Linked DNA regions of Homo sapiens: all the other regions are linked to region 3. The links come from fine-mapping of genetic effects on gene expression. A gene starts in region 3. Each other region holds a variant in brackets. All regions are shown on one strand. Distances are from middle to middle.

Region 1 (5,000 bases), 58 kb after region 3:
AGGAGGCATCTTGGCACTCATCACAATTTTTAAATTATAAATTTAATTTATTTCGTTATTTATTATCTGTCTTTTCCACCAAATTTTATGCTTCATGAGGTCAGGAATACTGTCTTATTTTTTAACTTTTTGTTGAAATATAGACATACATGGGTGCAGCACACCAACATGGCACATGTATACATATGTAACTAACCTGCACATTGTGCACATGTACCCTAAAACTTAAAGTATAAAAAAAAATAGACATACAGAAAAGAGCATATATAGACACATATACATGTATAAATGTATACACTTATACATGTATAAATATATACATTATATAAATGTATACACTTATACATTTATCATGGATATATTTATACATGATAAATATACAGTTTGATAGTTTTTCACAAAATGAACTTGTATGACCACCACTCCGATCAGGAAACAGCATGAGCAGCCCCAGAGCATGAAGCCCCTTCACTCCTTTCCATTCATTCTCCAGCCCAGGGCGAGCACTGCTGGCTCCTGACAGCAGGGATCCACTAGCCTGCTCTAGAACCTGATGTGTATGAAATCGGGCCATGCCTAGTATTCTGTGCTGGCCTTCTTTTGCTCCCTGTTGTTTTTTATGAAGTTCATCCACATTACAATTTTTGATCACACTGTAATTTTCGATCATTCATCTCATTGCTGTATAGTATTCCATTGTGTGGATATACAACAAAGTCTTTATCCATCATACTGTTCCTGGGTATTCCTCAGTTCTGGCTCTATGAACAGTAGCACCATGAGCATTGGGAACACGTGTGCAGATTTCTGTTGGGTGGAATTGCTGAATCATGTCATATACATATGCTCAGCTTTGGTACCTGTTTCCAAACAGTTTTCCAAAGCAGCTGTACCAGTTCACACTCTCACCAGCAGTGTATGAGGGTTCCATTTGCTCACCTGTTTCAACACTGGTTTTGTTAGTCATTTTTAGCCAGTTGGGTGTGTGTGTCATGGTATACCATTGTGGTATTAGTTTGTATTCCCCTGATGATGCACAGTGCTGATTTTGTTCATCAGTATATACCCAGCATTTAACATCATATCTGTGCTTTTTATTAAGGCTCTTTCTATACAAGTGAGAGAGGATGGGACAGAAACCCAACCTAAGTTGGCTTAAACGAAAAGGAACATTAGTGGCTCCTGTAGCTAGCAGAGAGACTGGAGTAGCTCAGACAACCAGAGCTGCTGGCCCCAGGGCTGGAGGCTTCTCTCCCACTGTGTGAGCCTCCCAGCAGCCCTGGCATCATCTGCCCTAAGCATCCACTTCTCAATCCCAGGTGGCAGGAGAGCTGCCCCCGGGGAGCCACACTGTGTGTAAGATGCTGAGAGTGCTGTGATGAGGTGAGCCAGCTCCTGGGCAAAGGTGAGAAGGATTTGTCACCAGAAGAAGGGAGATGAGAAGGCTCACTGGACAAAGAAAAACAGACTTCTGACAGACCACCGTGGCATCACACACAGGAGATACTCCATAATATCATTTTGAATGAATGAATGAGTCAGCCCAAGCTTATGTTGTGCAGGCCACAGACAGGGTGAACCAGAAATATTTTTACTGAAATTACTCTAGGAAAGCAAAGCCGTTTTAGGACAGCAAAGGATTTTCTTTCCTTCTGCCCTCATTTCCCCTAATTCAAGAGCTATTCTATGTTGAAATATGAATAGCTATAAGATGTTTAGCCAATTCATGGATGATCTGTACAGAAATGAATAAATGAAAGAGTGGTGTTTGCTACTCTTCTGTTATCTGTTTTGAGTTTTAAGTCAAGCCCATAATAAGCTGGTTCCTTCCTCCTGCCTGGGCCAACAATGAAAGCGAACAGTGATTAGAGTTTGGCAGAGCTGGTTTATGTGGTCTGTGGCCAGACTACAAGGCGAGTGTTATTTTGGGACCCAAATAAAAACTATAAGTTTTTTTCTTTAAATTCTTTCGGTAAAAAATGGGAGCCACTTATTAAAATAACCAAGCATAATAGTTAAACTGGTAGCAGTAGATAAAGGGAACCCGGTAGAGAAGCCAAGAATATAGGTACACTTTGCTACCTTTCTCACGAATCTCAAAGGTAATATGATATCCTGGATGGGAATCCTGGAACAGAAGGACATTAAGGCAAAACTGAGGAAATCTGAATGAAATTTGGACTTTAGTTATAGTAGTGATGCAGCAATCTTGGTTCATTAATTATAACAAACATCCCACACTAATGGAAGATGCTAATAACAGAGGAATAACAGGGGAAACTGGGTGTGGGATATGTAAGGACTCTGTATTGTCTTTGCAATTTTCCTGTCAATGTAAACTGTTTTAAAAAGTAGTTTAAGAAAAAACCAGGTGAGGGTCTTGGAGGAGCCTGTGCAGGGAGGCTCCTGGAGCTTCAGCTTTATTAGTTTTAGGGTCAGCCCACCTCTGGTCTCCCTCCATTCTTATCAGTGGGATCACGGGGAACCTAAAATTTTCTTGAGAAAGGCACCTTGAGTAGGTGGCCCCGTGAGCAGGTGGCCCAGCTGCTGCTTCCACTTCTGGCTCTGGGCCACTGGTACAGCACGGCGTGTCTGAGCCTTGTTTTTCTTATTTTAAAAGATGGGCATAATTTTATATCTCTGCCTCATAAAGGTGTTATGAGGTGTTAAAAGATCTTTCAACACTAGAACTACTATGCAAATGGAATAAATTATCATTGTCCTTTGGACTACTTTGCTGAGACTTTTCATCGCCCCTCAAGTTTTAAATCTCTGCCTAGTATTCATTTTATTTCATTTTTCCTTAACCATCAGCTCTTGATGTAATACAAAATTTCAACTTAAAATTTCATTTGTGGCCAGGCATGGTAGCTCACACCTGTAATCCCAGCACTTTGGGAGGCTGGGGTGGAGGGATCACTTGAGGCCAGGAGTTTGAGACCATCCTGGACAACATAGCAAGACCCCATCTCTACAAACATTTTTTAAAAACTTTTAAAAATTAAAAAAAGTTTTCATTTATGTAAGTTATTTGTGCCCTATTTTTCTATGTCCTGGATGTGAGAGGTTGCTCTT[C/CT]TTTTTTTTTTTTTTTTTTTTTGAGATGGAGTTTAGCTCTTGTTGCCCAGGCTGGAGTGCAGTGACGTGATCTTGGCTCACTGCAACCTCCGCCTCCCAGGTTCAAGCAATTCTCCTGCCTCAGCCTCCCGAGTAGCTGGGATTATAGGCGCAAGCCACCAAGCGCAGCTAATTTTTTGTATTTTTAGTAGAGACAGGGTTTCACTATGTTGGCCAGGCTGGTCTTGAACTCCTGACCTCAGGTGATCCACCCACCTTGGCCTCCCAAAGTGCTGGGATTACAGGCATAAGCCACCATGCCCAGCCATGTTGCTGTTTTTCTAAGAACATGTGTTGACTTCATGGTTTATTTGTTTATTGATTTTTTGGAGATAAGATCTCACTCTCTCATCCAGGCTAGAGTGCATTGGCACAAACATGGCTCACTGCAGTCTCAACCACCTGGGATCAACTGATCCTCCCACCTCAGCCTCCCATGTAGCTGGGACCACAAGCATGCAACACCACACGCAGCTAATTTTTTATTTTTTGTGGAGATGGGGATCTTACCTTGTTGCCCAAGCTGGTCCTGAACTCCTGACCTCAAGCAATCATCCGGCCTTACACTCCCAAGGTGCTGAGATGACAGGCATGAACTCCCAAGTCTGCTCAGTTTTTTGTTTTTTGTTTTTGTTTTGTTTTTTGTTTTTTTTTTCATGGAGTCTCGCTCTGTCGCCCAGGCTGGAGTGCAGTGGCACCATCTCGGCTCACTGCAACCTCCGTCTCCTGGGTTCAAGCGATTCTCCTGCCTCAGCCTCCCAAGTAGCTGGGATGACAGGCGTGCACCACCATGCCTGGGTAATTTATTTTTAGTAGAGACAGGGTTTCACCATGTTGGCCAGGCTGGTCTCAAACTCCTGACCTCAGGCAATCTGCCCACCTCGGCCTCCCAAAGGGCTGGGATTGAAGGCATGAGCCACCGCACCCAGCCTATTTCCTTCCATTTTTAAAAAACTGAAAGCATTTAACGTAAGACTGTGAAGTACAAGTTTGAACATACATCATTGGCTTTATTTATAAAATATAGTATAAATATTATTTAAACTTTAAATTCTATACCCAAACTATTCATCAAGTATGAGGGAAAAATAAACACATTGTTAAACATGAAAGTCCTCAAAAAATGGCAGATTGAAACATACAGCATTTATCAGGCACCCTGCCAAAACCTTTCTAAAATGGCAGTAAAAAAGGTGTTTTGTTTGTTTGGTTGTTTGTTTTGAGACAGAGTCTTGCTCTGTTGCCCAGGCTGGAATGCAGTGGTGTGATTCTAGCTCACTGTAGCCCAGAATTCCTCGGTTCAAGTGATCCTCTTGCCTAAGTCTTCCAAGTAGCTAGGGCTACAGGCACACACCACCATGTCTAATTTTTAAAAATTTTTGTAGAAATGGGGTCTCACTATGTTGCCCAGACCGGTTAGTTTTTAAAAGACATAAATGCACAGATAAATAGGTAGGGCCAAGCCAAGCCCTGGAGTTCAAGGCCAGCCTAGGCAACATAGTAAGACCCTGTGTCAAAAAAAAAAAAAAAAAAAAAAAAAGAAAGAATAGAAAAATAGGTGGGAAGAAGGCAGCAATACAATATTGGAAGCTAGAAAGTGTGGTATTTGATTAAAACGAGAGAAAGCCTTGAGGAAGGCTGATGTGTTTTATAGAATTCCAATTTGCTCAGAAATGGGAGGCATCAAGTACATTGGAAAGTAGGGACAGGATGGAGAAGAGTTAGTCGGAAGTCCATACGGGAGGCAGAAAGGCTCTCCTACACCCCGACTTCTGTCCCCGCCATGACAGCAGCCATCTATTAATAAAAAAAACGATGATAAGAGCCAGAGAGGTTCTGGACTCTGGGCCCCACTGTGGCTTTTTTTTTATAACCTTCCTCTATAA
Region 2 (5,355 bases), 970 kb before region 3:
GGTCTCGAACTCCTGACCTTAGGTGATCCTCCCACCTTGGCCTCCCAAAGTGCTGGAATTACAGGCATGAGCCACTGTGCTCGGCCAGGTTTTTATTTATGGGGCAATTTAATCACCAATTAAAACTCCTTACTTGATTTTCTATTTCTTCTTGAAACAGTTTCAGTTATGTCTTTCTAGGAATTTGTCCATTCCATTATGGTTCTTGGGTTTGTTTGCATGCAATTGTTTATAATATCTTTCTAATCCATTCAATTTCTTTAGTCTGAGTGATGTTCCCTATTCTGTTTCTAATTTTGGAATTGGTGTCTTCTCTCTTTTCTTCTTAATCAGTCTACCTAGTGGTTTATCAATTCTGTTGATCTTTCCAAAGAATGAATTTTTTATTTCATTGATGTTTCTGTATTGGTCTTTTTAAAAATTGACTTTTTTCTGGTCTGATTTTCATTATTGCCTTTTTTCTTTTTCTACTTACTCTTGCTTTAATTCACTCCTTTTTCTAGGGTTTTGGTTTTTTATGTTTTGTTTTAGTCTGGACACTACAATGAAGCAGGATATTTCCCTGACCTCTCTGTGGGTGGGAACTGGAGTGCACGGGCACTGGAACTAGCCACTACTTCAGCACCGACAGGGCAAACTCCACTTGCTTGAACCTGCTGCGTTCCACCCCTCGTGGGAGGGGGACTTCAGGTGAGCAGGTGCTGGAGCCAGGACGAGCACTTGTGGGCTCTGGCAGGAGCAAAACTCTATGCGGGCCTGCCTCAACATCTGCAAGGGGTACCCATGACCCCTGAAGCCCCAGAGGGAGTGTTACAGTACTCCTTTAGCTCTGCTGTCCACGGGCAGCCTAAGTGTTAACAGCTCAGTCAACCTTCTGCCTTTTCGCCTGAGGCAGCTGCCTCCTGCCAGCGAGGGCAAAGGGTCAGTGTGACAGCCTTTTACATCCACACTCGTGACACCCAAGCTCTTGTCCAGCGTCCAGGAAAAATAAGGTCACATGAACAAATTGAAGGATGGTAAATGTCAGGGATTTATTGCCGATGGAAGTGGCTCTCAGCAGGAAGGGGATCTGAAAAAGGGACAGAGTGGGAAGGTAATCTCCTGATGTCCAGCCTTCTCCGGCCAGATTCTTCCCTAAAGTTACACTATCAAGCTGTCCCTCTGAAGTCAAGCTGCTTCTCTCTGATGTTCAGCCATAGTCTCTGATATCCAGTGGCTTCTCCTCTCTCTGCTGGCTGAGCCTGGGGTTTTTATAGACACAGGATGGGATGGGGTAGGGGTATGGGTGGTTTTGGAAAAGGCAACATTTGATGGGGAAAACAGGGATGTAAGTTCTCACTTTGGGCAGTGGTTTCAGGCTTTTTGGCTTGAAGGTGGGACCCTTGCTGAGCACTCACCATCTTCTGTCCAGAATTTCCCTGCATCCTGTCCCTATCAATCACTACTAGTATGTGTCAAGCATAGAACCCCTAACTTAAGGTCCAAGTCCTGAGGCCAGGCTCAGTTGCGAGGGTAGCATGTGCATTGTGATAAAATCCTACCTCCTGCCTTCAGAGTCAAAGGCTCTGCATCCAAACAGTTTAGAATCTTTCCTATTCTTCTGCCACAGTCAAAAGAGGATCCACAGCCCCGTGTGGCCCTCTCCCTTCTGTGCTCACAACCCTTCAAGGCACCCTGCTGCGGAGTTAAGCACAACTTTTTTTCCTGACCTTGGGCAGCTGGCAGCTCCCCACCCCATGCCCTCACAGAAGCCTAGGGCTTCCCTCTCCAGGATCAGGCATTCCTTCCATCCCCCACCCTCCTAAATTTAGGACAGGGATGCTTTAGTGCCACTGTCTCTCTTCCGGGACTGACCACACTTCATTCCAAATAGGAAAAGATAGAGGGGAAAAAAGGGAGGGGCGGGAGACCTGGATGCTGGAGAGTTACCCCCTACAAGCTGCCCTCAGGGACCAGGTGCCCAATGCCCCACGGACTGCAGTGAACCCAGAGGGAGCCCTCAGTGCCCAGAGGGAGCCCTCAGACCCCTGCTTTGCTTGCCCCCTGGGCTCCATGCCCTTGATTCTCAGGCCAG[A/G]GAGGAAAGGGTCCCTTCCCTCTCACTCTGGCAGCTGGTGGAGGGTAGGATGCAGCACTGAGCCCTTTTTCTAGCTTCTTGATGAGGAAGCTTGTTATTCTTTTTTAAAACTTTCTTTTTTCAAATATAGGAGTTTAAACCTATAAATTTCCCCCTAAGCACTGATGGCATCCTATAAATTTTGAAATGTGGTACTTTCATTTTCATTCAATTTGAGATATTTTTAATTTTGTTTGTGATTCCTTCTTTGATCCATGAATACTTGGAAACTGGTAGTTTAGTTTCCAAATGTGTAACCGTTTTCCATATTTATTTCTCTTGTTGATTGCTAATTTAATTTTTAGTCACAGAACATTTGCATTATTGTAAGCCCTTTACATTTTTTGAAACTTGCTTGATAAGCTAAAAAAAAAAGATCTCCCCAAAGGTATTCATTTCCTAATCCCTGAAACCTGTGAATGTGACACTATATGGAAATAGGGTCTTTGTAGGTGTGATTAAATTAAGGATCTCAAGATTTAAGTCATGCAGCCACAAGCCAAGGAATGCTGCCAGCCTCCAGAAGCCAGAATTTGCCAGGAAGGGATCATCCTCTAGAGCCTCTGCAGGAAGTGCAGCCCTGCTGACTTCTGGATTTCAGCCCAGTAATACTGATTTCAGACTGGAAGTTTGGAATTCTGGAGTCCAGACTTGGGAGAGGATACATTTCTGTTGTTTTAGGCCACCACATTTGTGGCAACTGGTTACAACAGCCACAGGAAACTAATGCAACTCGTTTCATGGCTTAGAATAGGGTCTAGGGTCTATTCTGTAGCACAGCGGTCCCCAACTTTTTTGGCACCGGGGACCAGTTTCATGGAAGACAATTTTCCCACAAACGGGTGGAGTGGGTGTTGTGGGATAGAGGTGGTGGATGGTTTCAGGATGAAACTATTCCACCTCAGATCATCACATATTAGGTTCTCATAAGGAACACACAACCTAGATCCCTCACATATGCCGTTCACAATAGGGTTCGTGCTCCCACGAGAATCTAATGCCACCACTCATCTGACAGGAGGTGGAGCTCAGGCAGTAATGCACACCCGCCGCTTACCTCCTGCGGTGCAGCCTGGTTCCTAACAGGCCACAGACTGGGACTGGTTCCTGCCAGGGGTTGGAAATCACTGCTGTAGGATGTTCCTTGAAGTCCAGGAAAGAATGTGCATTCTGTTTTGGGGTAGCGTGTTCCATATATGTCCCTTAGGTCAAGTTGGTTGATAGTGTTGTTCAAGTCTTCTATACCCTTCTTGACTTTATGAATTGCTGTTCTATCAATATTTGAAAGACTATAATTAAAATCTCCGACTTTATTTCTGCTCTCAATTCTATCAGTCCTTGCTTCATGTATTTTGAGACCCAGTGTTAGGTGCATTTACATTTATAATTGCTATATCTTTCTGATATGTTTACCCTCTTATAATTGTGAAATGCCTTCTCTTCTCTTGTGATTTTTCTTCTTTCAAAATCAGTTTCATCTGATATTAGTATAGCTAATCCAGCTCTCTTTGCCTACTGTCTGCCTAGTGTACATTGTGTCATCCTTTTATTATCTACCTACTTGTTTCTATGAATCTAAAATGTGTCTCTTATAGATAGCCTATAGTTGCATGGTTTCAGGGTGAAACTATTCCACCTCAGATGGAAGTCTGTGACATCTGCAAAAGATGTCCTAGGAGAGAAAGTGGGAGAGAGAGAGAGGGCATAGATTCAATTGTTTCTCATACAGACATGTCTGTAATTTCCACAATTACTGCCCTACCCTGCAATTCAGTTGGTTTCCCAACATCCAGCAGTTCTCCTGCTTAGCTTCTCCAGTGAATAATACTCATCTCATCTATAGGGGCAGTGGTTGGAGGACCTGGAGGAGTGACTTGCCTGAGTGTGGAGGGTGAAGGTGTTCTAGAGTCTGACTGTTCCACAGTCTCCAGCCAGCCCTCATTAATCCAGCTGACCACTGTATGTACTGCCTCAAATTCCTGAGCATTTCACAAGTTCTGCAAGGCAGAACACTCTCTTCCCATTAGCCTCAATCTCTACAGGCACCATGGATTGTAAATTTCTTCCCCCTTCTAAACCAGTTGTATCATCTGATTTTTCTCTCCCAAAAATCTGTTGAAATTCCTTTTTTTCCCCATCATCTTCTGCACATTGCTTCCACCTCATGATCAAAACGACTGCTCAAATTCTGGCTACTACATCTGCATTTCATTCAGCAGGAAAGAGAGGGAAATAAGAAGGACATTCCATCCTCTTAAAGACTCTTCCTGGAAGTTACTTGCAACATTCTGCTACCTTCTCCTTGACCAAGTCCTACCCACATGGCCACACTAAACGCAGTGGAGGCTGAGAAATGTGGTCTTCATTCAAGACAGCATGTGTCTAACTAAAAGTTGTGAGTCTATAGCCAAAGGAAAAGGGAAGACAGAGATTGGTGGACGTTTCTGTCACACTCAAGACAATACAATGTTTCAAAAAAAAAAAAATTAAACAAGCTCATAAAAAGAATGGCTGTTCATTGAAATTACCCACATTAGGCCATCTCAGGTGAGTAGCAACTAATAGTGCCTATTAAGTATCTAATAAATATTTGTCAGGTATTTATTTGTCTGAATGGATGAACCTGAATCAACCATCAGCCTGAGAGAGGGGTGGCTTTCTGTTTACTATGACCCACGACAGGTGACAACATCCATTTTTTTCTTTTACTGAGTTTATCAACAAACAGAAAACCTCAACCTGCTTCTGACATCATATGCCAGCTTTGCATCTTGCTACTATATTATACCTGGTCTTAAACCTCCAGGCACACTAACCGGTGCCAAGTAGAAAGACTGGAGAGAACAAAGAGAAAAATCAGGAAACAGCAAGAAGTCTTTGACTCACATGTACCAACAAAGCCTCTCCCAACACAGAGAAATGGTGATAACGTAATCACAGGCATGCTAGCCATTGTTCCAGTGGACTTGAAGCCAAAGCCGGGATTAAATAAATGGCTGGCATTTTTCAAAGAACCAGAGGCAGCACTGTTTAAAAGAGCTGACAGCTGTGAGATAGAGTATTCTTATTACAGAGGCTTAGCGGGGAGACTTAAAGTAAACCTTTCCACCAGCAGAGCACTCTCAAATGGGAGAAAAAGTAGAAAAGCTCCCTCTATGAGAGCAGAAAAATGCACGAGGATATAGGCATGGTTCTGGGGCTGTCATAAAGATGTGAGAAGACCTTAGTAAAATATCTTCAAT
Region 3 (5,000 bases):
TTGTTTGTTTGTTTCTCTCTGTCCTCCTGAGGCTGTTTTAAAACTCTATTAATCTTCTCAACCACCTCTTCTGGAATCCAGATGCTTCTAGAAGAAAAACTGTTCTAAACCTCTCTGGGTTTCAGTCCCATCCCAAATATTGGCCCTGTTGTTTTTCTCACCCTTTCTAGTTATTCTCAGCAGGTCTAATGATCTGACTTGCCTTGTCTGCCATTATCAGAAGGAGAAGCTCCCTCAGATTCCTTTTATTTCTTGCAGAAATATATCCTCTTTTTCTCAGAGAATGTTGTAAGTTGTAAAATTCTGTGCTCTTATTAAAGATCTGAAAATGTCATTGTTTAATTGGAAACAGAATTACGGTTTCAAAATCATTCTAATCATTTTTCTTTAATACCTTATAGATATTTGTCCATTATTTCTTATATTTAGTGTTGCCGATGAGAAATTTGACTTGAATCTGATTCTCATCCCTTTGTAAGAAATTTTTTTTCTTTCTATAGAAATTTTTTTCAAATTTTCAACATATCTTTGATATTTGGAAGTTTTACCTTGGTAAAAGAATGGAATGTACCTTGGTATAGGTTGTTTTTGCTGTTTAATGTATCCTTCTTGGGATCTTTTAAACTAAAAACTTCTTTTTTTCCTATACAAGCTCTCTTCACTCTGTTTTCTCCCATGACTGTTCAAGGGTACATTTTTCCTCTTTAAATTCATTTCTGTCTTCTCTTTGTCTGTGAAGGACTCCTCAGAGTGTCTGTCCCACCAGGAGCTCCCCTTTTTATTTCCTAGTGTAGCTGTATATTCGTGCATTTATTTGTCTGTAATATATCTTGTATTATTTCAAGGGAGTTGGTGAGAGGGGAAGAGGGCACAAGGTCAGCTCAGTTTCCCCTCTTGAATCTCAGTACTTCTTTTTATAACTTCATCTGCCAGAATCATCTTCCTCTAGTCAGGTTTCACTTAGTTAGTTCATAGTCTGACTTGCCACATCACCTTTGTTCAACAAACGGCAGTCTCTAAAGTATCTTCATGCCAGCATACAAACCTTTCTTCAGCGTATATATACATTAATTGCCACAGTCATTTGAAAACCATTACTATAGGTTATTGAAATGACCTATATTTCATAGGTTACTGGAACAACTTTTTGAACAACTTTTTGCAATCTACTTTAGTTTTAGAAAAATTAACATGCAGCATGTAAAGAAGGACCAAATCCATTAGCTGATTGGCACCTGAAATCATAAAAGTCAATTCAGAGAGCAAAGTAGTATGTTGGAAGGGAATAACAACAACAGCAGGGGAAAGCAATATGAAAACCTGAACTGAGAGACAAAGTGAAACTAGAATTTGCTGAGTGGCATGGCAAGTGTGCTCTGATGGATATCATAAGTGCTCTGCAATGCATGAAATGTATACATTGAAATTTTCTTGCATTAACAATTGTATGTGCAGACCTTCCATCCTGTTGTGAGGAGTCAGGGCCTAGACCTCGAGGCTCTAGAGTTAAACTCTCATGAGGGTCTCAGGCATCCTGCTGTCCTGAGGCATCCTGAAAGCACTCACTTATGGGGCATTGCCTGATTGAGTGCTTAGGAGTGTGAATGTGCCAGCTGTGGCCATTCTGAGCACACCCCTCTCTCCCAGTATCCTCATTCTGGAAACTACCTCTCTTTCTTTTTTTCCCCCAAATTGACTCACTTTTACTTACCCAGAAATCTAAATAGATAGGCACAGAAATAAACTTACAGAGCTATTTGAATTTTGACAAAATCAGTATCTAAACAGTCTCACTACAGTGTTTAAATACATTTTAGGAAATGGTCTCTCAATACTAATTTTACTATTAATGCTTAGGCCCTCATTATTTTCATTGATATACAGAATTTTGCTTTGCACTTAATATTTGCTTTCATAAACAACTTCGTAATTGAGTGTTTGCCTCCTAGAGGTAAATTTTCTGGGATTCCAATCATAGTATCATTTTTATCAAGTAATTTTTTTCCTTCTAGCACTTACTGTGTTTATCCCAACATTAAATATTATTTATAAACCTTGATTAACTTATTTTTCTTCATTTAAAATTTCTTACCAGTTATCTTAAGTAAACTTTAAAAATATTAATTTAGAATTTTAAAATTCTACATGAAGTCATGAGATGTCTATTATCTATTTTCACTTCATTCAACAGATTTAAAATGAAAAATATTTTGAATTATTTATGTTCTTTTAGGACTTAAAAATTAATAATATTTTCAAACCAATTTATACTTCTATTGAACACATAATTCCACCTAAACATATAAAAATAATTTAATACTAAGTATACAAGGTCTGAAATACTTGGGAAGTACATCGTGAAAAAAACAAACAGAATAATGCATACTTTGAACTTTAAAAATCTATTAGTAACGAGCTAATTTACTCAAGAGTTAAACAGTTGTGAAATAAAATACCCAAATATTAAAACCATTCCACATGCTAAGTAGAAACTTAAAATTTAAAACTTTTTTACCTGGAGATCTAAACTAAGTAGGCTTTGCTTGGTGTCATTTAAGTCTCCAGCTGAAAATGAAACAAAATCAGAGCTTTCTTTAAAAACAAAGAAAGGACAGAAGGGAATGTTGAAAAGTATTTGCTGAACTTCTTAGTAAAATCTAAAATAACTGCCTCCCTTGGGGATAAATGCCTTTCAGTTCTTTGTGCAGAAAATCAGCCAAGAAAGTAACCAGGGAAAATGGTTACCAAGGGAAATATTTTTTTTAATCATAAGAAAAGTAGAAAACAGCAGTGGGTGTGGGGGAAGAGCATTTTGTTTGCAGGCTGAAAAGGCAGAGTTGGAAACACAAAAATGAGCTTGATTAAGAAATCTGTGGTTTTCATAGACTATTCGCATTAAAAATGTTAAAGTTTATACTAGCCAGGATGATGTCACTTGAGCTTTATCAGATTATAGGGATGATATTCTCGTCAGCTAAAGGCTGTGTATATCTGGAATCTATTTTAAATTGGATTAATAATATTTAACTCATCTGCCCACCCACCTCGATCTCACACACAATACTAACAAAACGACAACAACAAAAAAATGGTTACGTATTAATATCAGTGGAAATTATGTAACTTCTAACCATGAAATAATAGAAAGAAAATGTGAAAGGGAGCTGTGTGGCTCCTAATTACCTGTTACGCTGGCAAATTAGTTGTGTACTTTGGCCTCAGTTTCTTTATCTGCAAATGAGAAGTTAGAGACAGATCAGGATTCCAAGCGCAACCCTGCTGTTTATGAGGGACCTTGAGTAAGTTACTTAATGTTTCTGACCAAAGTTCACTCTTCTGTAAAACTAGGGTGATACCTTTCAAATTTTTCTGAAAATAAAAGGAATAACAGATATGAAGGTCCTAACTCAGTGCCTATCCTAGACTAGGTAATTTTAGAACTATTTTTTAAATTTTTTTTTTTTTTTTGAGACGGGAGTTTTTGCTCTGTTGCCCAGGCTAGAGTGCAATGTCGTGATCTCAGCACACTGAAACCTCCGCCTCCCAGGTTCAAGGGATTCTCCTGCCTCAGCTTCCCGAGTAGGTGGGCTTAAAGGCGCCTGCCACCATGCCAGATTAATTTTTGTATTTTTTTTTTTAGTAGAGATGGGGTTTCACCATGTTGGCCAGGCTGGTCTCGAACTCTTGACCTCATGTGATCCACCCACCTCGGCCTTCCAAAGTGCTGGGATTACAGGCATGAGCCACCGCACCTGGCCTGAAATTCTTATATCGTTATTTCAGGGGTCCAAATCATTTGGCAAAGAGGAGCTAAATATTTGTTTAAATGACGTGGTTAGACTGAATCAGGATTTTGTAAAATGACCTAGATAGACTGAATCAAGATAAGGGACTAAATACATAAGCCACTCAACTTCCTAAAAATAAGGAAAATGATATCTATTTTTAAAAATGTAAAACTAGCTGAGTGCAGTGGCTCACACCTGTAATCCCAGCACTTTGGGAGGCAGAGACAGGTGGATCACCTGAGGTTAGGAGTTTGAGACCAGCCTGGCCAACATGTGAAACCCCGTCTCTACTAACAGTACAAAAATTAGCCGAGTATGGTAGCACATGCCTGTAGTCCCAGCTACTCAGGAGGCTGAGGTAGGAGAATCACTTGAACCTAGGAGGCGGAGGTTGCAGTGAGCCAAGATTGTGCCATTGCACTCCAGCCTGGGCAACAGAGCGAGACTACATCTCAAAAAAGAAAAGAAAAGAAAAGAAAAAGATGAGTACAAATGAGCAAACACCATTAAACAGGCAGTTCATAGAAGAGGAAATGTCAGTGGTCAATAAAACAGAAGAGGAAGATTTCTCAATCTCAGTAACAGTCAAGAAAAGTAAATTAAAACAGGAAGGTTATTTTTTCACTACCATAGTGAGATGTTGCTGACAAAACTTTGGGGGTAGAAAAATTACCCAAATAATGCCAATGCTCAATCAAGCTTGAAGACCACTGCTAATCAAAAATCATGGCCTGATTTGAAATACATACATTGTTTTTTGGGGGAAAAAAATGTTGATGATATGCTGTGTTGGCCAGTGTGTAGGGAAAACAGAAACTCTCCTCTTCCTTGAGGACAGCTGAACAGTAGCTATGCTGTCTGTCCTACCATTTCACCTCTAGGAACCCATTGTAGAAACACCTCTTTCTGTACAAAAGTGTGCCTTCAAGGAAGTACTCTGAAGTACTGTAACCATGGATTAGAAAAAAAGTTAACCCAGTTGTGTATAGATAGAGAACAAAGTGGGCTTACCATAAAGCTATTTGGAGAAACAGAAGTAACTCCATTAATACCACCATGCATAGTTGTCCATGCTATACCAGGAATAAAGAGATTTTCAAAACTGTACATGTATTATGATCTTACCTTCTTTTGATGTATGTAATTTAGCATTTTACTAGAGAACAAATTGGAAGGAATAAACAACAAAATATTAACAGTAATTACAGCGAG

Which allele goes with the higher level. Alleles are on the strand shown, and positions count from the first base shown. SD is a standard deviation of normalised expression in the study named. Not every link is listed here.
With allele CT in place of C in region 1, the expression in skin of the gene that starts at base 2,573 in region 3 is higher (small effect, 0.33 SD a copy in TwinsUK).

The links.
Region 1: its variant is fine-mapped to the expression of ECM2 in skin (TwinsUK, PIP 0.93).
Region 2: its variant is fine-mapped to the expression of ECM2 in cerebellar hemisphere (GTEx, PIP 0.99).

Annotation. Positions count from the first base shown.
Region 1 is chr9:92,591,817-92,596,816 of GRCh38, forward strand. The region is part of intron 5 of CENPP (centromere protein P); the gene reads left to right. Among named protein-coding and RNA genes, the nearest start is that of ECM2, 58 kb to the left of the region's middle. The variant C/CT (reference allele first, on the strand shown) is at 3,076.
Region 2 is chr9:91,567,192-91,572,546 of GRCh38, forward strand. No RefSeq gene overlaps it. Among named protein-coding and RNA genes, the nearest start is that of MIR3910-1, 66 kb to the right of the region's middle. RefSeq lists an enhancer at 4,744-5,280. The variant A/G (reference allele first, on the strand shown) is at 2,075.
Region 3 is chr9:92,533,418-92,538,417 of GRCh38, forward strand. ECM2 (extracellular matrix protein 2) reads right to left here and starts at 2,573. Exons shown (of 10, transcript NM_001393.4): 1 at 2,516-2,573. The region is part of intron 5 of CENPP (centromere protein P); the gene reads left to right.